Linked DNA regions of Homo sapiens. The protein of the gene in region 4 purifies or fractionates together with the protein of the main gene of each other region. This does not show direct contact. Each region holds a gene or a part of one and is shown on either strand. Other genes may lie near its edges. The genes, in order: ERI3, GNB4, MTMR6, KCNJ5 and LANCL2.

What was found.
Region 1: the proteins of KCNJ5 (region 4) and ERI3 purify together in Homo sapiens (affinity purification with mass spectrometry; 2 studies listed by BioGRID and IntAct, with this or other methods). This does not show direct contact.
Region 2: the proteins of KCNJ5 (region 4) and GNB4 purify together in Homo sapiens (affinity purification with mass spectrometry; one large-scale study listed by BioGRID and IntAct). This does not show direct contact.
Region 3: the proteins of KCNJ5 (region 4) and MTMR6 purify together in Homo sapiens (affinity purification with mass spectrometry; 2 studies listed by BioGRID and IntAct, with this or other methods). This does not show direct contact.
Region 5: the proteins of KCNJ5 (region 4) and LANCL2 purify together in Homo sapiens (affinity purification with mass spectrometry; 2 studies listed by BioGRID and IntAct, with this or other methods). This does not show direct contact.

Annotation. Positions count from the first base shown.
Region 1 is NC_000001.11:44,337,754-44,342,278, forward strand, and holds part of ERI3 (ERI1 exoribonuclease 3), read right to left. Parts: intron 1,570-4,525; coding exon 1,292-1,569; intron 1-1,291.
Region 2 is NC_000003.12:179,416,475-179,420,999, forward strand, and holds part of GNB4 (guanine nucleotide-binding protein subunit beta-4), read right to left. Parts: intron 4,454-4,525; coding exon 4,415-4,453; intron 3,032-4,414; coding exon 2,925-3,031; intron 83-2,924; coding exon 19-82; intron 1-18. UniProt on the Homo sapiens protein: Guanine nucleotide-binding proteins (G proteins) are involved as a modulator or transducer in various transmembrane signaling systems.
Region 3 is NC_000013.11:25,280,676-25,285,200, forward strand, and holds part of MTMR6 (phosphatidylinositol-3,5-bisphosphate 3-phosphatase MTMR6), read right to left. Parts: intron 1-4,525. UniProt on the Homo sapiens protein: Lipid phosphatase that specifically dephosphorylates the D-3 position of phosphatidylinositol 3-phosphate and phosphatidylinositol 3,5-bisphosphate, generating phosphatidylinositol and phosphatidylinositol 5-phosphate.
Region 4 is NC_000011.10:128,911,125-128,915,649, reverse strand, and holds part of KCNJ5 (G protein-activated inward rectifier potassium channel 4), read right to left. Parts: intron 4,387-4,525; 5' UTR 4,377-4,386; coding exon 3,440-4,376; intron 1-3,439. UniProt on the Homo sapiens protein: Inward rectifier potassium channels are characterized by a greater tendency to allow potassium to flow into the cell rather than out of it.
Region 5 is NC_000007.14:55,368,252-55,372,776, reverse strand, and holds part of LANCL2 (lanC-like protein 2), read right to left. Parts: intron 1-4,525. UniProt on the Homo sapiens protein: Necessary for abscisic acid (ABA) binding on the cell membrane and activation of the ABA signaling pathway in granulocytes.

The DNA.
Region 1 (4,525 bases), on a different chromosome or scaffold from region 4:
GATCCCTTCCTGAAAAAACCAACCATGACAGACAAACCCAGTTTATCTTTAAATGGACCACACTCCTCCCTACCTTCGAAGTGCCCGATGCTGAGGTCCCCTTCTCTCCCTCCTCCTTACGATTGAAAGCTGTTCCCAGAGCAACATGTCTATGCATCACACACTCTATAACCTAACCCTATAGAGAAGAGTTACAGTCCTAGAGCCAGACATATTCAATGCACCAACACTACAATGAACTGCTACATCAGCCCCCAATCATTCCCTCAAAGCAAACACCACATACTTCAATATCACCTGCAGCTAATCCAAGCCTCCTAGCAGCATTAACTTAAAAGCTAAAAGGTCTTTGAACACAGCTGGTGACTAATGAAAAAAAGCAAGCAAAGAAATTGTCCTTTCCAACAGACCAACAATGGTACTTGCTCAGGTTATCTAATGCTGCATAACAAATCATCCCAAAACCTGTGGCTTAAAACATCAATAATCATTTGTTATCCCTCACAGTTCCTGTGAGTCAGGAATTTGAGAGTGGCTTAGCTGGCTGGTCTGGCTCAAAGTCCCTCCTAAGGTTGAAGTCACATGTCCACCGGGGCTGCAGTCATCTGAAGGCCTGACCGGGGCTGGTAGATTCACTTCTAAGATAGCTCATTCTCATGACTGGCAAGTTGGGCACTGGATTTTGGCTAAGAGCCTCAGTTCCTACACACATGTGCCTCTCCACAGGGCTGCTTGAGTGTCCTGGCAGCATGACAGCTGGCTTCCCCCAGAGCAAGTGGTCCAAAAGAGCAAAGTGGACTGCAATACTTTTTATAACTTACCCTCAGAAGTCGTACATTATCTCTTCCACTGTATTCTATTAGCTATACAGGAATATCTTTGATTCAGTGCAGGAGGGGAACTACCAAGGGTGTGAATAGCAGGAGTTAAGAATCATTGAGGTCATCTTGGAGGCCAGCTACTATAGCACTCCTTAAAGGAACAAGTGGCAGTAGCAGGAGAATGGAGGAAAGAAGAGAACAGAGAAAGGAAGGACGGGAGAAGGAAATATTTTGATTCCCAAAAGCTGAGACTAGAGAGAAACAATGTACCCAGTTCTCTCCAGAGACTTCTCAGGTCTACCTTACACTAGCATACCTGAAACAAGTCCTGCTTCCTAGACAGGAACTCTAAATGAGTAGCTAAAAGACAGGAAGGCATGAGAAAGCTCCTTTGTGTCCCAGGAAGCAAAACTATCCTCCCTCCCTCCTTGCCCCCCCCACCTTTTCTAAAGCAATGATGGAACAGTTACCTGAGGATGAATCTGTGGCTTGTCGCACGTGGCCTCAAAGTCCAGCACTAAAAAGTAGTGATACCTCTGGGGAGGGAAGGACACCATTGCCGCCATGGATGCGCCAAAGCCGTGGGCCGCCAGCTTTCTGGTGGATATGGAGCAGAACTCCGGAACACCACAGGGAGAAAATAAGTGGGAGCCCAGCACTTTTCTTGCTCTTGAAAGTAAATACGAAGAAAATCGAGCTGCTCCAGTCTGTAAAGGTGCTAGCATTGAACATCCAGAAGCATCTAAAACTTAGGGGAGGAAAGTTTAAAAAAAAAAAAAAAAAAGAAAAGAAAGAAAAAAAAAAAAAGAACAGAGAGCCTGGGTTACTCCCTCCCACTGTGGCCCTGTTCCATCTAGTCTTCAGGAATATCCACGCAACATGGGCCACTCCCCAGTGTTTCTGGGCCCCTTTTCTAAATCATAGTATTCGTTACTAAAGTTCAAGACCCTAATAGCAGCACCTGCAGCATTATTACAGCTCTGAGTCTCCCAGATCATTCTCAAAACAACATGCAACACTGGCCTGCATCTTTAAATGGAGCTCTAAAGTTCAAAAGAGAGAAGAGAGAAAAATTGTGCAGTCACTTCTCAGGTGGCAACAGTTAACATTAAAGCTATGGGTCCAAAGTAACGTGAGGTGACCCTGTTGTACAATGAGTCCTGGAAGCTAAGTAGACTCAGACAAGCAGCAGAAAATGTCCAAGGTTCTTTTCTCAGCTCCACTAGGAGCCATTTGCCCCTGGCTTTCCAGTCTGTATCTTGATGTCTCCACATACCCTCCTCCCCTCTCCCAAGGTGAAGGCAAACAAAGCGAATCACAGGGGTTTGCTCTGACATTCTGGTGATCCCCCAACCCCCACACTAGTAAGTGGCACCCTGGGGGAATGAACAGTGCCTGGAGAGCACAGCTGGCTGCAGCCTTAGGCCTTCTCATTTGCTGCCTTAGACTCGGTCTCTACTCGAGGCCCTGAATGACTGCGGGACTTTTTAAATAGGGAAGAAAAAGAAAACCCAGATGTGGCAGTAATAGGAACATGGCTAAAAGTCTAGTAAAGTTTTCTGAGTGAACATGTGCAAAAAAAAAAAAAAAAAAATCAAATCACTTTTCCTTTAAGTTTTCCCCTTAAATTTGCAGAATGCCTGCTCCTCAGAGGCCTAACTAAATACAAAAATCAAAGCCTAAGTTTTACTCACGAATAACTCAAACTTCCTTAAAAAGAAAAAAGGAACAAAGCAGAAATGTTGTCTTTCTCCCTTTAATACTCAACATTCAAATTTCTCTCAACTTTAATCCTCAAATAAGAAATCTCACTGTACAATACAGTAATGGCCATAGTTTGTGCTTTCCGAAGCCTCATTCCAACACAACCAAAGGCTTGCCTCTGATGGCTGCAAGTGGGCACCTGGCTCCCTTCACATAGGGTAGAGGGATAGCACCCTGTGAAGTCCAGCGCGTACTCAAAGGCAATGAGGCCACTACCACCTGAACAGAAGCAGATAATGCCAAGTATGGCTGTCTTCCCATCTCTCTCCTGACTCACTGAATGAGCTACAGTAACTTGCCTATATATATAGTAGGATATACGCTAGTGTAGGTCCTCAATTTCCCTATCCCTATAATGAGATTTCAGGGGGATTCAGTGGAGCTAAGACCAAAAAATATTTTAAGTTCTTCATGGATCCTGCACAAGCACAGCACTTGTTTTCACCACTGCTTTATAGCCTCACCAAAAATACAGCCAAAACTCAGCCCAGGTAGACAAACGCTGGCTTGAGTTTCAATATGGAGTCTCCTGGAAGGGCAAGAGGGCCAATATCCCTTTGAAAGCCAGAATCTTCTCATCGCCTATTCCTGAATAGTACTGGAAGCCTTAATGAGATGGAAGACACCAGTCTGCTCAAATTACCCATTCTAGTTTGGATCCAAAGTCCCTCAAGGACTTAGACTCTTCTCTAACCCCATAAAAAAGTGTAAAGACTTCTGAAAGTCCTAATGTTCTACAGTGTGCACAGAATATGCGTAGTATATACAGTCAGTCAATCCTGTCTACCAAATACTATAAGCAATTAAGCATGATGAGTAAGGAGGGCTTCCAAGTTTGAATCCTAGCTTTACCACTTACTACCCATGGCACCTTGGGCATGCTGTGTTCTTCAATTCCTCATCTGTAAAATGACAATAACAATAGCACCTACTCCTTAAGTGAGAACAAAATGAGACAACACATGTAAAGCACTAAGACCAGTGCCTGGCATATAACAGCCTAATATATATTATCCTAATGTTATTACTACTATCCTATTGGGCTATGCCCACCTGGCCAAGCCTGGATCCCCAGATTCTGGGCCTACAAATCCAATTAATTCATAAGGCAGCCTCAGAGAGTAATATCGATGTCTTCTGCAACCCTAAAATGCTCCAGACCTCTGACAGAGCATACTATATATACCCTATTCTGATGGCCAGTGGTCCTCTTGCCTGCAGGCCTTGCTTTCTCACCTGATTTCATCTACATCAAAAAGCTTCTTTTGGCCAAGCACAGTGACTGCACCTGTAATCCCAGCACTGTGGGAGGCTGAGGCAGAAGTATTGCTTGAGCCCAGGAGTTCGAAACCAGCCTGGGAAACATAGTGAGACCCAATCTCTACAAAAAATAAATTAAAAATTAGCCAGGCGGGGTGCTGCATGCCTGTAGTCCCAGCTACTTGGTAGGCTGAAGTAGGAAGATCACTTGAGCCCAGGAGGTTGAGGCTACAGTGAGCTGTGATGGAGCCACTGCACTCCAGTCTGGGTGACAGAGCAAGACCATAATTCAAAAACAAAACAAAACAAAACAAAACAAAAAAACTTCTCTCGTAGGAAGTCTTGAGAGTAGACATTAGGAGGTCAGGCCTCCACATATCAGCAGTTACTGGATTCCACACTTCCCTTACTTCTAACAACCAAGCTCAGTTCAAGTCAAGAAACAGAGGGTAGCTCTTCCTCTTCCCTTCCTGAAAAACTCAATCCTAAAGCCATTAGGTGCAGCAGAAGAGGGCAGATATCTACAACGGGTGGAGTAGGGTGAGCCAGAGAGGTCTGGGGGACACTGTCAGAGCCCAGGCAGGGTGAGGAAGACATCCTTGCAGAAGTGGGAAGGTGTGGTGCAGCATGTCAGAGCCGAGGGGGATGTGGAGAGCATCCATGTCGGCTGGCAGTCTGAT
Region 2 (4,525 bases), on a different chromosome or scaffold from region 4:
ATTATGAAGAAATTCTACCTTATTTGTTGTATAGCTATCCCAAATAATTAATTTTCCATCTTGAGAAGCACTGACTAGCAGCCTAGAGGAACAAACACAAAAATAATTTGACACTTAGAGGGAAAAAATAGCTTAAATTGGTTATGCATTGCATTAATGTAGAATAATTCAGAAAAATACAATTTTTCCAACTAAAAACTTGATACCAAAAAATGTTCTTCCAACTTTTAAAAAATTTATGCTGCATGCCAAAAATCTTGAACATATTTCATAAAATAAAATTTAGCAACTGACTAAAAATGTCTGGCTATGATTAAACATTTTTGTGGTAACAACATCTTAGTTATACAAGATTTGGGTGGATATTAGCTGACTGGTTTAGTACTTACTGACTTACTTAAATTTCATGACAAGAATGTACATAGAAGCCTAACAACCATATTTCATCCAATCTAAAAACACCAATTGAGAGCCTGAGAATATGACAATACTAGAGGTACAACGCAGGATACATCGCCTGCTCTTGAGGCCTCTACCATCTGGTGAAGATAAGACATTTACTCATATTTATATTAAATCAAGTAAGTAAAAACTGTCAGAAGAGGGGTATAAAATAAATGCCACAGGAGAGTAAAGGAGGAACAATGGCTAGATGAGTTAATCACAAGAGAATGAGTCTTGAAAGAAAATGTTGAGAGCTAAAGATACAGAAAAGGCTGTATTTTAGGAGAAAGCTATGTAAGATCAATGACAGGTAGAAAAATACACTGAGTGTTGTTTCAGGAATTGTGGGTCTTCCAGTAGTACAGTTTGTGAGAAAATGGAAAAATAAGTTGAGAAAAGCAGACTGGGCTTAAACTGCAGAAAGCTTTGTTAAACTAAAGAGTATGAACTCCTAAGTAATTTTAGCCACTAAATTTTTTGTTTTGTTTGGATTTTTTTTTTTTTTTTGAGACAGACACTCACTGTGACACCCAGGTTAGAGTGCAATGGCACGATCTCAGCCCACTGCAACCTCCGCCTCTCAGGTTCAAGTGATTCTCCTGCCTCAGCCTCCCGAATAGCTGGCATAACAGGTGTGCACCACCACGACTGGTAAGATGGGATCTCAACATGTTGGTCAGGCTGGTCTTGAACTCTTGACCTCAAGTGATCCACTCGCTTGGCCTCCCAAAGTTCTGGGATTACAGGCATGAGCCACCATGCCCAGCCTTGTTTGGAATTTTTACTTTTCACCATGGTGTAAAATTCAAAAAATAAAAAAGGATATACAGAAGAAAATTTAAAAAGCACCTTCCTGGGCCTATCATCAGCCACCCAGTTCCTTTCCCTAGAGGTAAATAACATTATCAGATTCTTGGGTAGCAATCACTACAAGGTTTTACAAAAGGGAAGATCTATCTGATAGTGGGGTATAGGATGGCATCTAAAGAAAATTCTTTAGAAATCAATTGGCATCATCAGCATAAGAGTTGAGGAGAACATTAAGTAATGGATTGATAACACGGATGGGTGGGAAGACTATGTGAGATAGGTTCCTGGATGATGGTTTCATTTTTCTATGAAGATTAACAGTCTTCAGAAAACGTTTAAGGAAAGCAAGAACCATAAACATTGTTTCAAGTTACTATATTTTAAGTTAAAATTTTGCTTTATCAACAGGTAAATTATTTTTATCTTCAACTCCTTTAAGAAAAAGAATAAGACATTCGGCCAGGCGCGGTGGCTCACACCTGATTAATCCCAGCACTTTGGGAGGCTGAGGCGGTTGGATCACCTGAGGTCAGGAGTTCAAGACCAGGCTGGCTAACATGGTGAAACCCCCTCTCTACTAAAAATACAAAAATTAGTCAGGCGTGGTTGTGGATGTCTGTAATCCCAGCTACTTGGGAGGCTGAAGCAGGAAAATCCCTTGAACCTGGGAGGCAGAGGTTGCAGTGAGCCGATACCACACCATTGTACTCCAGCCTGGGCAACAAGAGTGAAACTCTGTCTCAAAAAAAAAAAAAAAAAAGAAAAAAGAAAAGAAAAAGAAAAAGATTAAGACATTATGTCAGTTGCCAATTATATAATTTTATGTATCCCTTCGTAAGAGGCACATGTTCTATATTATTGTGGTCAAGTATCCCAATTAGAGCAACAATTGAGGCTTCTTCTACTTTATAATTTTAGTGTCTCCTGGGAGAAGAGAATAAATGTGCAACTTCTATTAAAACATAGAAGTTTCTTGGTTTAGGCATTTCCCATTAAGATTAACCAAATCAAAGGAACAAGTAAACCACTGTGATAGCAGACACATCTGCTATTGCCAGACAATGGAAAAACATAGGCTGTGCTGTAGCCTTATACACATAGTGAATGACAGTGATGAGCAATCTATCTAACTGTAGGCCACGTAGCAGCTGTGCGTGTGCCTGTGCACCTGCAGATGGTCAGCTTGCACATTCAAGCACACACCTTTCTGTGATGCAGTCGAGGGAGTAAAAGATGTATTCAGTACAAACACCTTTGTTTCATGTAATTTCCATTATTTGCGAATTTATGTAATAACAAACTATAGCAATATCCAAAAACTTGCACATAGGTGTTCAATACGTATTTGCTTATGAACTGAAATTTCAAGCTTCATATACAGTAAAAACGCTTTGTGCCTATTTAAAAAACAAAGAATGTCTGCAATGTTCCACTGCAAAGAAAAGGAATCCTCTTCTGAACAGTTGTCCTGGATTCCATATTAAAAATGTTTATACTTTTAAAGAGTCAATTAATATTCTTATTGAAAGCAGCATGTTCATCTGAGATGCATTTTCTGCAAACGCTTCATGAATATATTCTGTTTTTAAACAAAGAAAATGCAAATGATGGTTCTTAATGAAAATAATTCTGCAACAGTTTAAAAATGACAGGTAATGACAGGTACAAACCTGGAATCGTATCCCCAATGCATAGCATAGATTTTAGCTAGGTGGCCCCTCAGTGTACGTCTTGTTCGCATTTGTATTCGACCCACAGAGTCCATATTTGATGTAATCTTTTGAAAGCAACAAAAATGTTATTCTTTACCTTAATCATAGTTCATGAGATAACTTGAACTAGAAACAGTGAGGAGTTAAAAAAGCAAACATAAAGTACATTTATAGTAACTGAAGGTAATTTAATGTATATAATTCCACAGAGCCGTTATGGGATCAATATGTTCCTGAAAATTATGATTAGTTTAAAATAATCCTATGTGCTGTTATAAATAATATACATAAATGTATAATAAGAATGCCTTCTGCAGACTATTAACTAAAAAGAATAGATATACCTCTATGCTTTAGTAAAAAACCAGCCACAAATAAAAATCTAGAGGCAAATGATCACAGTAAACATTTACAATTTTAACTGTAAGAAAGCCAATTTTATATTTGTAGAGCACATAAAATACTTCCTTAATAATAATGATCAATATTAATTAAACATGAAGCCTTCCCAAGATTTTTTAAAAATATTAGTCTTCTTGACCCCTCTTACTATCTCATTCCCAACCTAAGAGTTTTCATAAGGAAAAAAACACTTAATCAGGGTATACCAAAAAGAATCAGAAACTATTTAAAAAGAAGCATAAACTATATGAATCTATACATACATATATATATACATACATAAATATATATAATTTTTTTTTTTTCGAGACAGAGTCTCACTTTGTCTCCTGGGCTGGAATGCAGTAGGGATCTCGGCTCATTGCAATATCTGCCTCCCAGGTTCAAGCGATTATCCTGCCTCAGCCTACCAAGTAGCTGGGATTACAGGCAGGCACCACCATGACCAGCTAACTTTCATGTTTTTTTTTTTTTTCTAGTAGAGACAGGGTTTCACCATGTTGGCCAGGCTGGCCTCAAACTCTTGACCTCAAGTGATCCTCCCACCTCGGCCTCCCAAAGTACTGGGATTACAGACATGAGCCACCATGCTTGGCCTTGAAAATATATATACATATATATATATATATTTTTTTTTGAGACGGCGTCTCACTCTTCTCGCCCAGGCTGGAGTACAATGGTGCGATCTCAGCTCACTGCAACCTCTGCCTCCTGGGTTCAAGTAATTCTCCTGCCTCAACCTCCCGACTAGCTGGGATTATGCCCAGCTAATTTTTTTTATTTTTAGTAGAGATGAGGTTTTACCATGTTGGTATAGCTGGTATATTTTTATAGCATTTATTTTTCCATAGATGTCTATTTTAACAATATATTTTAAAAAGCACTCGCACTGTATAGCATTTGACAAATTACGAAGTGCTTTTACACAGAGATTTCATTTAACTTTTTTCAATTAAGCACTAATACAAGAATCTGAATGTCATTTGCCTCTATGTCAAATTATTTTATGAGTTACCAAAATGAAATAAAGAAAAACAAAACTTTACCTGAACAAGCGTTGCATCATTACATGCTTTCCGAGCATCCTGAAGTAAAAAAATATGATTATAATGCATTTAGCAACCTGTGGAATGACTAAAGTGATACTTTTATTGAAA
Region 3 (4,525 bases), on a different chromosome or scaffold from region 4:
TCTTTCTGGTCACTAACACTGAAGTACTAAGAAACTATTAGGATCCTTAAATTATAGGTATCATCACAGCCAAAAAGTAAATGAAAAAAAAGAAAAAAAGACTTTGGGAAAAGAAAGAACAAACGAAAAACGAAAATGTGGCAAGGAGAAAGGAATTGGAAGATGTCGCTTTGGTGAGGAATGGTAAATGCCAACACACATTACTTTAAGGACTATTTAGTTGAATTGTTGCCAACTATGGGCCTGCACTAAAAGGTACCCTAATGGTCCAGGCAGAAAGTTCAAATTTCAGCCAATTATAAAATTAGAACTGGAAAACACAGAGAACCCCACACATACAGAATCACACTCAGAAAATGTTGGGGCCACTACAGGTGTAGTAGCTTACGCTTGTAATCCCAACACTTTGGGAGGCCAAGGCAGGAGGATTGCTTGAGACCAGGAGTCTGAGAACCAGTCTGAGCAACATAGTGACACCCTCATCTCTACAGAAAAAGAAAATTATTTTCTAATTAGCCAGGCATGGTGGCATGCTCCTGCAGACCCAGCTACTTGGGAGGTAAAGGCAGGAGGATCGTTTGAGCCCAGGAGGTAGAGGCTGCAATGAGTTATGATCATACCACTGCACTCCAGCCTAGGTGACAGAGCAAGATCTTGTTGGAAAGGAAAGGAGAAAGACAGGAGAAAGGACAAAGAAGAAAGGAGAAAGGAAAGGGGAAAGAGAAAAGAGGAAAGGAAAAGGAAGGAAAGGAAGAGAAAAGAAAAAAAAGAAGAAAAGATTCCAAATGAAAAACACAGGGAGTCACACAAACAGAATCACATTCAGAAAATTCAGACACCTCTTTATCCCTGAGGAAAAAGTGGCCTCTGGGACAGGAAGGGACCAATGGCCTTCTTCAGACTTCTGTGACCAACAGTTGTACTTATTCTACAACTACATAACAATAGACGCTGTGGCTACTGAAGCAGAAAGTGCACCATCACTGTTCCTCTGGCTTGTCGCACTCCTTCCCTATAGCCAGGCACTCATCTAGGACTCTCAGAATCATTTCACACTGACATCCTGCCAAGAATTAGCTTTCAAAAAGAAAGCACATCAAGTTGTGTGCAGGAAGTGGAGGGCAGAGATTATGGTTTCTGTTCATGTATCCCAATTTCTAGAACAGTGTCTGGCTGCATAAATTATCAAATGAAACAGTCATGGACCTCAAGAGGGGAGAGAGTAACCTCAGATCGTAAATCCAGTGGGCACTTTTCAGTTTTTTCTTACTTTGCTTATTCCATCAATGGCTTCCTATCTCACTCAAAAAAAGCAAAGATTTTACAGTGGCCTTCAAGACTACAGTAACTTGCCCCTGTCCCCCAACTTTAATCTTCTACTGTGCTCTTCTTCACTCACCCTGCTCTAGCTGTCTTGCTTGTTCTTAGCAACCAGGCATGCCCTCAAAGGGTTTTTGCCCCTGTTGTTCCCTTTGTTGGGACTCTCCCCGCCATCCCCCATGTGGGGATGGCTTACTCCCTCACCAGTTTCAGGTTTATACTCAAGAGTCACCTTCTCTGTAAGAGCTTCCCTAACCACTCAATTTATAGCAGTCCTCCCTTAAACCCCCTCCTCAACCCTCATACTCTTCAGAGCCCTGGCTTGCTTTATTTTTATCCACAGCATTTACCACCATCTAACATACAATACATTGAACTTAATTTTGTTTATTGTTACCTCTTCTCCAACTAGATAAGTTATAAGGGCAGGAGTTTTTGTCTGAACCTAGAACAGTGCCTGGCCCAAGGAGGAGGAAGCAGCCAGAGGATGGAGCAGAGAAGGAAATTAGAACACGGAAGACTGTCACCTTCCCATCTGTGCTTCACCTCTTCCAAATGCATCCGGCTTCTCCTCCTCTGCTTGCTCGCCCTCTTCTTTTTTCTTTTTTCTTTTTTCTTTTTTTTTTTTTGAGACAGAGTGCTGCTCTGTGACCCAGGCTGGATGCCGTGGCACGATCTCGGCTCACTGCAATCTCCATCTTCTGGGTTCAAGTGATTATCATGCCTCAGCCACCCAAGTAGCTGGGATTACAGGTGCCCGCCACCATGCCCAGCTAATTTTTTGTATTTTTAGTAAGACAGGGTTTCACCATGTTGGCCAGGCTGGTTTCAAACTCCTGACCTCAAGTGATCCTACTGCCTCGACCTCCCAAAGTGCTAGGATTACAGGTGTGAACCACCATGCCCGGCCTGCTTGTCCCTTTTTAAGTGTTTAGACTTTTCTCCACAGAGTCTCAACATATTCTCCTTGCATAAACTCATTCACAATAGAAATTTCAATGATTTACCTAAACACAAACAACTCCCTCCCAAATCTACTCAAGGCCAGACCTTTTCCCTCACACTAGATCCTCACATTCAGCTAGCTACTAGAAAAAAATCTGACCACCTAAGCTTCTTCTATCCACCCCTCCTCTCTGTTCTTACTCACACTGCCCCAACTGACTAATCAAATCTCTTGATTAGATTATTATTCTGTGAGGCAAGAGAGTGTGGTTAAGAGAATAGGCTTGCTATCAGAAAGACCTACATTCAAGTTCCCACCTCCACCTCTTCTTTGGTAGAACTAACTGTGTGAGCCAGGACAAGTTATTTTATTAATTCTCTCAGGGTTTCAGTTTCCTCACCTGTAAAATGGGATAGTATTAGTGAAAATCAAAACAACACTTTACTTGGAAAAAAGCATTCAGGTGCTCCTCAAAACCTATTGGCTTTTATTTCAAAGACAATTTAAATAATATCAGTTTCTCCTTATTCTTGATCCATTCTTATTTTTATATCTCCTTTCTTCTTTCAGAGGGAAGGTATATTTGTATACATACATAGATGATCTCACATTCTAATGACAAAAAGAGGGAGCAAGCTAAAGAACATGTTAGGCATAACTTTTGGAATAACTCAATTTGGGCCTTAGTAGGATCAGATTTTTATGGGACATTCCATTTGATTACAAACGCTAGCAATCAGCCTTTCATTTATAGCTTAAAAAAGGTTCTTCCATTCCATTCAGTAAAGTTCCATTCACAGGTAAGACAATATCATTTGACATCAATATATAATGTCAGCCAAAGTACTGGCAGGGAAAGGAGAAAGACTGCATAAAGAACTGTCTCTGCATATTTCTCATTGTTTCTTGGCAGGACTATGTCATTATGGCAAAATGAGAGCTCAAAGCGATAGGTAGTAGCTGCATGATTCATAAGTGTAGCTTGGAAATGCTCTTTCAGAAATCCAGATTCAGGGACTTGGCATCTTTGATGCTATACAGTTAGTAAACCAAATGTGACCAAAACAGAATGATAAATATGTTCATTAGTATTCAGCTAAAATACTTAATCTGATAAATCTCTGGTTAGCAAGCAATAATGATCCTAAATATTATTTAAAAACAATACCGCATAAATATTATTTATTTATGACAAAAAGAGGTTTGGGGGGGAAGCTCTTAGAATTATCATCAGCATTTATTTCTGAATTAATACTAATGCACATTTAACAATTAGATTAAAACTAGAGAGGCACTGGAAAGAGCATACATAGTCTTTGGAGTTAAACACACCTTAGTTTAAATACTAATTCTATCTCTTGTGAACTAATTGAGCAGGTTACTTAAATTCTCTAAGCCTATTTCCTCCTCACCTATAAATGGAGATAATACTACCCAACTGACAGGGTTATTTAAGAGATCAGTGATGATAATGTATAAATTAACAGATTTATACAATTGTACATATTATAAAGTAATAATATTGTATAATTGGCTATATTGACATATAGTTGCTCAATAAATGGTAATTATTACTTTTCAAATAGAGCTGACTGAACAACAAAAATCACTAAATAGTCATAAAGGACACTCTACGGTCAATTTTGATCCTAATGACTAAACTACATAGAGGTCAAAACAGCTAATAAATCTAAAACAATCCACTTTTGCTTTTTAAATACTTACACTTATTTTTGCAGCAAACTAACTAAATCCAGGTGAAGGCTATGCATAATGGAAACAAAAGTTTGGCTATGTTCAAACCAATCTTTTAAAAGTAAGTTATTTCCCAATACATTAATAATTTAAGAACATGTTACAGTCCCCACAACAATTAACAGAATGTACCCTGAGGTCCACCTCTATCTTGCTGTTATATACCCAGTGTCAATACAGTGTCTGGCACATACTAGGTACCTAGAAAATATTTATTTGCGGTCTACATACACTCACTTAATATTACTCCAGAGTAGTGATCCAATACTAGAAAAACAACCCAAAGTAATAAAGGAGCATATTTGAAAAGTAGTTTTAATAGACAATTCATCAGAAATTTCTTAGTCTCTAAAAAGGCCTTATTAAACCACTAGCATGAGACCACTGTGTAAAGATAAGTCAAAATCAGAGCATTACTTGAAGAAAAGTTCATCAGTTGGTAGATAAGGAGGAATATCAGACAAAATGAAAGTCACCAGTGACAACTTTCAAAGAGCTAATAAG
Region 4 (4,525 bases):
GTGGCAGAAAATTAGAAATCGACATGCAAGATTCTGAAAGTCATTTCCTAGAGATTGGAGTGAATAGATGTTGGAATAGTTGAAGGTAGGGACTCCGTTCCTGAAAACAGCATTCAGGTCTAGAAGATTAAGATGGGAAAAAAGGCAGGAAAGGGCAAAGATAAATTCAGCATGAATGAACACGGAGAATCTGACAGGCATTTGGAACATATGGGGATTGTTTTGGGCGGACACATACGGAGAGAGGGCTCCACACTCACATACACACACACATACACACAGGAAGAGGAGCAGACGCACACACAGAGCTTGGCTTCTTGATTTGAGGCTGCTCCAATGCCTCGTTTCCCTGTCTACTCAGCCCGTGCCATGCCTATGCTATTTTTAGGTGTTGCTTTCTCTCCAGAGAGGAGGGCAGCTTTGTTTATGGATGAGGAGGCCTCTGTGCTTAGGGTCACAGGAAAGCAGCTTTCTGATATTTAATCTTCTGGCCAAGGAAGGCATTAACTGTGTTGGTTGGGTGCTGAAGGCAACCGTCTCCAGCTCCCACTTTGGGCTTTCTCTGGGAGGGGCTCATACAAAGCAGACCCAGGTCCAAGGCTGCTTCTCAGCCCCAGCGCACCCACACAGGTGCGCCCACAGCCTGCTCTCTGCTCTCAGTGATGCCTGCCTGGGCCGGGCCTCTCCCTTCAGTCGTTACCCTTGTTGTCCCCACAGCCTTGGCAGAGAGGCCCAAACCGGGCCCTGAGCAGCCTAGACCATGCCAGACGTCTGCAGCCTCCCAGGGCCTTGGGAAAGGTATGGGCAGGACCTTTCCCCTTTGGGATCCTCCTGCTCCTCATGGGGTGTGGCAGCGGCTGCCCTGTAGCTAGAGATCCTGGTGTGTCCCTGTCATTGCTCAATACGTTTGGAAAGGATTCCCCAGGTGTCAGGTATAGTGATCAGCACAGCTCCTTTTCATCTTGAATCCTCCCAACAGCCCTAAGAGATTGATTTTCCTCACTTTGCTGACAAGGTAAGCAGCTTGCTCAAACCCGCTCAGGCAGGATACGGCAGAGTTGTGCTACTCAAGCTGAGGCATGGATTCCCAGCCCACACCTGGCTGCATGTGCTTGACAACCAAACCACCCACATCCAGGACAGATGTGGGCCAGGGTCTCCTGCCCTATCTCCCTGGATCTCCCCTACAGTTTGTGGGACAGAGCAAGCATAGCCCGGGTTGTGGGAGGGGAAGGAGGCCAAACCGTGAGGACAAGTGAATGGCGGGCCCCTGACTTTGAGGGAGGTGTGGTTGGGGGTGCAGCGGGGCAGCGGGGCAGATAGCACTGGCTCCCTCCACTACGAGCCTGTGGGCGCTCTCCCTGCTGCATGGCTGGGGAGTGAGGATGGCCTTGGAGAGTGGTCAGGTGTGCTATGATTTGACCCCATGTCTCTCACCCAATCCCTTTTTTGTGGCTTCAGAGTGGAGTTCTTCCCCTGAAATGCAGCCTGTGTCCTGATTCTGACCCTGGAGGCAAGGGCAGGGTGACCTGCAAGCCCCTAGCTCTGTGGGGGAAACCTTCCTGAGTCCTGACTGTCCTCGGCCCCGGGGCTGCCCACCTGCCACCATATGCTGCCTGCCAGACTCCAGCCCCCAGCAGATGGCCGAGCAGCCACCTCTGGCACCAGTCCCTGGAGCTTGTCATTGCCCTCTCCTGGTTCCACCAACTTCAAAATGGGAAGGCTTGTGCAGTCTGGGTCTGAGTCCCCTGCCCGGCAGCCAGCTTCCTGGGGGCTGGAATGTGTGCTTGGCCATCTTCCTGACAGGCCGCTAGTATTTTAGTGGGGCAGAGTGGTGAGAGAAGCTCCAGATTTGTAAGTGGAAGAGCTGAATATGAACACTCACTGTCTACATAATGCTTTTTAGGTTCAGCCTCGACATCTGTAAAATGAGACTGAAGCCAGCCCTACACTGTCATTTGCAAGAATTGGAAAAATAGACATGCATCATTCTGAGCGTGACTGAGTTTCTAGAACCCATCCTTAGGGCCTGACCAGCTGCTCATTGTACCTGGTTGAAAAAAAAAAGAGAGAGAGAGAGAAAGGAAGGCACGAGGAAGAAATGAAATATGCAGGATGTGGGGTTTTGCTGCGAGTGGGGTGGGGACTAGGGTCCTCTGCCAGAGTTCAGGCGGTCCCAGGCCTTGGACTCCCTGGAGCCACCTCACAGAGGTCTGCCATGGCTGAGTGGCTGAGGAACTGGGGGGTCCTTGGCTACCAGCTGCTGGTGAGTCAGTAGCTGAGCAGGGAGGTGCCATGCTGGCCACACAAAGGGCATTTTCTTGGGCATACATGGATGTTGATGCCTCAGCATGGATGCACTGTTTTTTTGTGAGAAAGGAGCCTCACCTGCCCTGCGTTCACTAAACCAACCTTCTGCAAGAATGCTGAGGGCTGGCTGCCCCAGAGGGAGCCCAGCCACAAAAGCCCTTCCCCTGCAGCAAAGGTCTCTCCAAGTAAGGGGTTGGTGAGAACCTTTTGAGTTTAGGAAATTCTGCATCCCCTCCTCTCCCAGTGATGAGACTCAGTGGGTAAGGACAGCGAGAAGTCCACTGTAAAGAAACCAGTTCGCTTTTGTTTCGCCCTGTGATTACCAGAGCTATCTGACCAGGGAGCTCTTCTGGGTAGAACACTTGTTCCAAGAAGGGGCAGTTTGTCCTGTTGGAAACAAGTGCTGGCTCTGGGGTCCCTGGTCTCAATTTCCATCCTAGCTCTATCATTCGAAAGTGCTTGCTCTTGGGCAAATAATTTAGCCTGTCTGTGTCCCTGTGTCTTTATCTGTACCTTAATAAAAACTATCTTGGCTGGGCACTGTGGCTCACGCGTGTAATCCCAGCACTTTGGGAGGCCGAGGCAGGTGGATCACAAGGTCAGGAGTTCGACACCAACCTGGCCGACATGGTGAAACCCTGTCTCTACTAAAAATACAAAAATTAGCCAGGCGCAGTGGCGGGCACCTGTAATCCCAGCTACTCCAGAGGCTGGGGCAGGAGAATCGCTTGAATCCGGGAGGTGGAGGTTGCAGTGAGCCGAGATCGGGCCACTGCACTCTAGCCTGGGTGACAGAGCAAGACCCTGCCTCAAAAATAAACAAATAAACAAAACAACAACAACAATAACCCACTATATCTCATAGGGCGTGGGAGGACATTTGGCCAGATGATAGATGTTTATTGTTTAGGACAGTGCCTGAAAGTTGGGAAGTTCCTGTCAGTGTTAGCTATTGCTATTACTCAATCTTGAGTACCAGTACCCCTCAAACCACAATTTAGGGATTGAATGTGTTGCCTGCGCCACCCCAGGACTCTCAGGCACAGACCTGCATCTTCTGGAGTCACAGTTGCCTAAGTCTGAAGTGTAGGTAGGGCCACCTGTGGCTGAGGAGGACAAAGCGCCTTACCTGTGGCTTCCACCATCCCTTCTAGAATGACCACAACTTCAAACTCTTCCTGATGCAGCTGAGCCTGAGACATCTCCCAGAAAGGGCTCTTCTGGTTGATCTCATGGGAGATGATCAGAGGAGACACAAGGAAGAGGCGGTCGTCGCCCGTGTCAAAGCCCACGTTGATGTCTGTCTGGTTCAGGGGGATGAACTCCCCCTCTTTGGTCTGCCGGGACTTGATGAGCTTGGCCCGGATGGAGGCCTCCACGATGTGGGAGTTGCGGAGGTCGCCCACCCGGAACATGAGGCACAGCTTCTCGTCCCGCATGGAGATGACTGCGTTGTTGGAAAACATGAGGGTCTCCGCTCTCTTCTTGGGCTGGCTGATCTTGACAAACATGCACCCCACCATGAAGGCATTGACGATGGAGCCCAGGATGGCCTGGACCAAGAGGAGTATAATCCCCTCTGGACACTTCTCTGTGATGACTCGGAAGCCATACCCAATGGTTGTTTCGGTCTCAATGGAGAACAGGAAAGCGGACACGAAGCCACTGAGGTTTTCAACACAAGGAATCCACTCTTGGTCGCCAACATGGTCCAGGTCACCCCGGATATAAGCAATGAGCCACCAAATGAAGCCGAAGAACAGCCAGGTGACAGTGTAAACCATGGTGAAGACGAGCAAGTTGAAGCGCCACTTGAGGTCCACCAGGGTGGTGAAGAGGTCACTCAGGTACCGGTAGGTCTCCTGGACGTTGCCGTGGTGCACGTTGCACTTGCCACTCTTCTCCATGTAGCGCTGGCGTGGCTTCTTGCCCTCGGCCAGCAGGCGCGTACGGTCTGTGGCAATGGGGACATAATCGCGGGCCTGTTTTGGAATCTTCTTGGGGTCCCAGGGAGTGACTCCAATCTCCATGTCCTGGTTCATGGCATTCCTAGAATCGCCAGCCATAGCTGGGATGCTTTGAGTTAAAAAGACACCATCAGTGAAGTGGGCTGTTCTGATTCACTAGAACACAAGATGGAAGGCCACCCCCACCCCGGGGCTCTCCCAGGCTTCTCTTCTGTTATCCAGGGGTCAGGGCGTGAAATCCTCAAGGG
Region 5 (4,525 bases), on a different chromosome or scaffold from region 4:
AAGTAGGTTTTTTTTCTGTATTCCACTGAAAATATAAAATGTAAACAAATTTTTCATTATCACATTTTATACTCTAATACAAATAAGCTATGTCTATAATAATGCTAATAGCTATCATTAACTCAACTCTTACTATTCACCTATGTATCAGTAACTATGTGTACCTAGGTACTAACTGTACTCAGCACCGTTCTGAATGTTTTAAATGTATTAACCTAATTAGCCATTATAACAATCCAGTGAGGAGGGGGTGGTTATATTACATCTACATTATTAAAAGCTTTAGCAAATACGTTATATTACAACTATGTTATATTAAGAACCTCAGTTAGCCTTTCAATTTAACCATTTACATCAAGTTGATGAGGTAAGAAAACCAAGGTTCAGTGTGTGGTTAAATAACTTGCTCAAAGTCTACAAGTCATAAATGGCAGAAAAGTAGGAGTCAAACACAAGACTATTAAAACTGTTACCTGCTCTATGCTACAATTTATTTCCAAAAGATGGAAAATGCTCATGTATAATATCTTCTTAGTTCCCTCTCCATAATCTTACCATTACCCTTCCACGTCAATATCTTTCCACATCAGGAACTGAAAACTGGCTGGAGGTTAATTAAGTTCATATTAAAAGAAAATTTAATAAAGCTACATGTAGAACAGTTTTCCTCAATGCTTCTCAAATTTATGAGTACTCTGGCATGAGGATCTTGTTAAAATGCAGACTGTGGTTCCTTGGGTTTGGAGTGGGATCTGCATTTCTAACAATCTTTGAGGAACTGCTTATGATTTAGGTCCACAAACCTCACTCTGAGAAGTTGTAGAGTATATTACCCCACCTTCCACCTGACACACACACACACACACAATTTAGTTCATTTTGAATAAAGAGAAAAAAATTACATTTCTCTGGGTATTAGGGTAGTACTGATTTCCTTATGCTTCCATGATATATTATGAGGTTAAACAAATTTTAAAGCTTCAAAACAAAAATATGGAAAATTAAATAATTATAAACTGAAGCATTTCCAATAGCTTAAGATTGTATCAAATTACAGACAAGTTTTCCTGATTTTTTTCTGTGGAAAAAGTTGTAAAGTCCTTTGGATTGACCAGAAACTATAAAACTCCTACAAGAGAACATGGGGAAAAGCTCCTGGACACCGGCCATAGCAATAATTTTTTGGTATGACACCAAAAGCTCATGGCACAAAAGCAGAAATAAACAAATATTACTATATCAAATTAAAAAGCTTCTGCACAGCAAAGGAAACAATTCTTAAAATGAAACAGCAGCATATGAGCTGGGAAAAATTCCTTGAGCCCAGAAGTTTGAGACCAGCCTGGGCAACATGGTAAAACCCTGTCTCTACAAAAAATACAAAAACTAGTTGGGCATGGTGGTACCTGTCTGTGGTCCCAGCTACTCAGGCAGCTGTGGTGGGAGGATAATTTGAGCTCGGGAGGGAGCCACAATCATGCCACTGCATTCCAGCCTACAACAGAGTGAGACCCTGTCTCGAAAAAAAACAAAACAAAACCCAAAACTATACAGAGATAGAGAACAAAACAGTTATTACCGGAGGCAGTGGGTTGAAGGAAGGAGAGGAAATGGTCAGAGGATACAAAATGGAAGATATGCAGGACAAACAAGTCTAGAGCTCTAAGGCACAACATGAAAACTACAGGTAATAAAAATGCACTGGATGTGGGATTCACGCTAAGTGAATAGATTTCAGCAGCTCTGGCCACAGAAAAAACAATGGGTAATTATGTGACATTGGGAATATATTAATTTGCCTCTCTATAGAAACCATTTTACTACCTATATGTATCACATAACACCATGTGGTATACCTTAAATATACAATTTTAAATTTCATTTTAAAAGAATCCTTCCAATCCATCAAGTCCTTCAGCATCAACTCCAATCACTGTCTTCGGCCTCAATACTCCCCAGTGCCATTCACGCTCCCTCTTCTCCAGTCATGCCGTACTCCTTGATATTCTCATAATGTGGTATCCCTTAAGTCCTTGCTCATGGAGTTCCCTAACTGAGCCTAGAAAACCCCCACTTAATCTTTCAAGGACCATGAAAGTATCATTTTAGTCTAAAAAGCCTTCCCTGATGCGAATGGGCAGAATTAACACGTCTTCTTTCTTCTCTTGTGCCCCCAAGATATTCTTTACATATTGTCACTTACTGTAATACTCATTGCAGGGTTCTGGAGGCTACACCTAGCAATGGTGCAGTATCACAGCAATTTCTCTCCCAACCAATGAGGTATGGCAATGACCTCTCTGACAAGTTCAAGATTTCAGCCCTGGCTGAGGACTCTACAGTTCATGGTATTTATGCTCCTGTATAACCCCTCCACTTGAGCGTGGGCTGGATTTACTGTCTTGCTTCTAATAGAATACAATATGGCAGGTGTGATGGTATGTCACTTCTGAGATTACATAATAAATACAATGACTGCAGCTTCCATCTTGGGTGCTCTTGCATACTTTTCTCTTTGATCACTCAGTCTCAGGGAAGACAGCCACTATGTCATGAGGCAGCCCTAAGGAGCAGCCCATGTGGTTAGACACTGAAGCCTCCAGAAAACACATAGCAAGGCCGACTAACCACCATGTGAATGAGCCTGGAGCAGATTCTCTCTCCCAGTTAAGCCTCAAAATGACAGAAGCCCTGGTTCAGAGCTTGAGTGCAGCTTCTCCAGAGACCGTGAGCCAGAACCACCCAGCTAACCTGCAGCTGGATTCCTGACTCTCAGACACTGCATGAGATCGTAAGTGTTTATAAAGATGCTAAGTGTTGGGATAATTATTACACAGCAACAGAGCTAATCACAGGGGCCTTTACTCGAGTGCCCTCTCAGCCCTAGGGGTGGGGCTGCTCCTTCTGTCTGCTATTCCTACACTCTTCAGAGTTCTCTTTCCTTCTCATGAGACAATCTCTTGTTACTCCAGTCTCACAGTTCATAACAATTCTTTAAGTTAAACTTTCCCTATTAAACTCTGCATGGTACCCATCTCCTGGTTGGACTTGAACATCAGTTGAAGCTGCTGCTGCTGCTGGTCAAAGACATTAATCATGATTCAGCTCCTAGAGCTGGGCTCAATTCCCCTTAAGTCCACGGCCACAACAAAATCAAGTAAAAAGGAGGAAATGGCTGTTAGATGAGTAACTAAGAGTGTCTGCGTCACAGGCTTTCCATAATTAAAAACAACTGCTACTACACTGGTTCACTGCTTTTCATAATATTGGCCCAATATTGTAAAAAATGTTATAAATACCAATTTATGGAAATATGGCCCAGAGAAGCCGACTTGAGTGGTTTTAGAATCAGAGGATAATTTTATTGACTGATCACACCACATACCTAGGCAGCCAAACTAAAATGAGATAGAGTGAATGACTTAAAGAATACTTAGTAATAAAATGTTATTGTGTTGGTAGATTTTTGTAATCATTACTCGGTAACATCATGGAGAGAAAATTATTCAATGCTTAACTTACAAATTAACAAGTTACCCTAGGGATACCACAAAGTTCAACAAACTGGGTGGCTTAAAACCACATAAATTTATTTTCTCATAGTTCTGGAGCCTACAGCCCCAAAATCAACGTATCAACAGGGCCATGCTCTCTGTCAAACTTACAGAGGAGAATCCTTCCTTGCCTCTCCTAGTTTCTGGTGTTGGCTGGCAATTCCAATCTCTGCCTCCATCATCACATGGCCATCTTCTTTCTCCCTATGTCTCTTTCTTCTCTTTTACAATTCTTTTTAAAAAAGAGACAGGGTCTCACTATGTTGCCCAGGCTAGTCTTGAACTCCTGCCCTCAAGTGATCCTCCTGCCTCAACCTCCCAAAGTGCTGGTATTACAGGCATGAGCCATCATACCTGCTTCTCTTTTCTTCATATAAGAACACCAGTCATATTGGATTAGGGGCCCATCATATTCCAGTATTACATCATCTTAATTACATCTGCCATGACCTTATTTCCAAATGTCACATTCTGAGGTTCCAATGGGTTAGGACTTCAACCTTCAATACCTTTTTTTCTGGTGGGGGACACAATTCAACCCATAACACCCTCATTTTCATGAAATTTCATGTCTATCAAAAACAGTGCATAGTGTGATATCCTCAAATTGCATTCTTAACAGATTTTTAAAACCAAAAATTTAATGTCAATCATAAAAAATATTAATAGGGAAGACAGTGTTCAACTCATATTCATTTTATCTGATGACTTTCCAATAACCAAGAAGCAATCTTTCCACCTTTTAAAATCACTATCCATCTCTCCCTTCAACGTGCTCTCATTTTCATATTCAAGAATAATATGATGTCCATTTCTTTCTTTAGCATATACTCACAACCACTGGCATAGGTCCCCACCCCAACTTACATTTCATTGCAGAGATATCACAAGCCCCATTAGTTACTTGTAGTCTAATTTTCTTTTCAACATAAATCAGGTATATAACTGAGGTCAAAAATCACATTTATCCA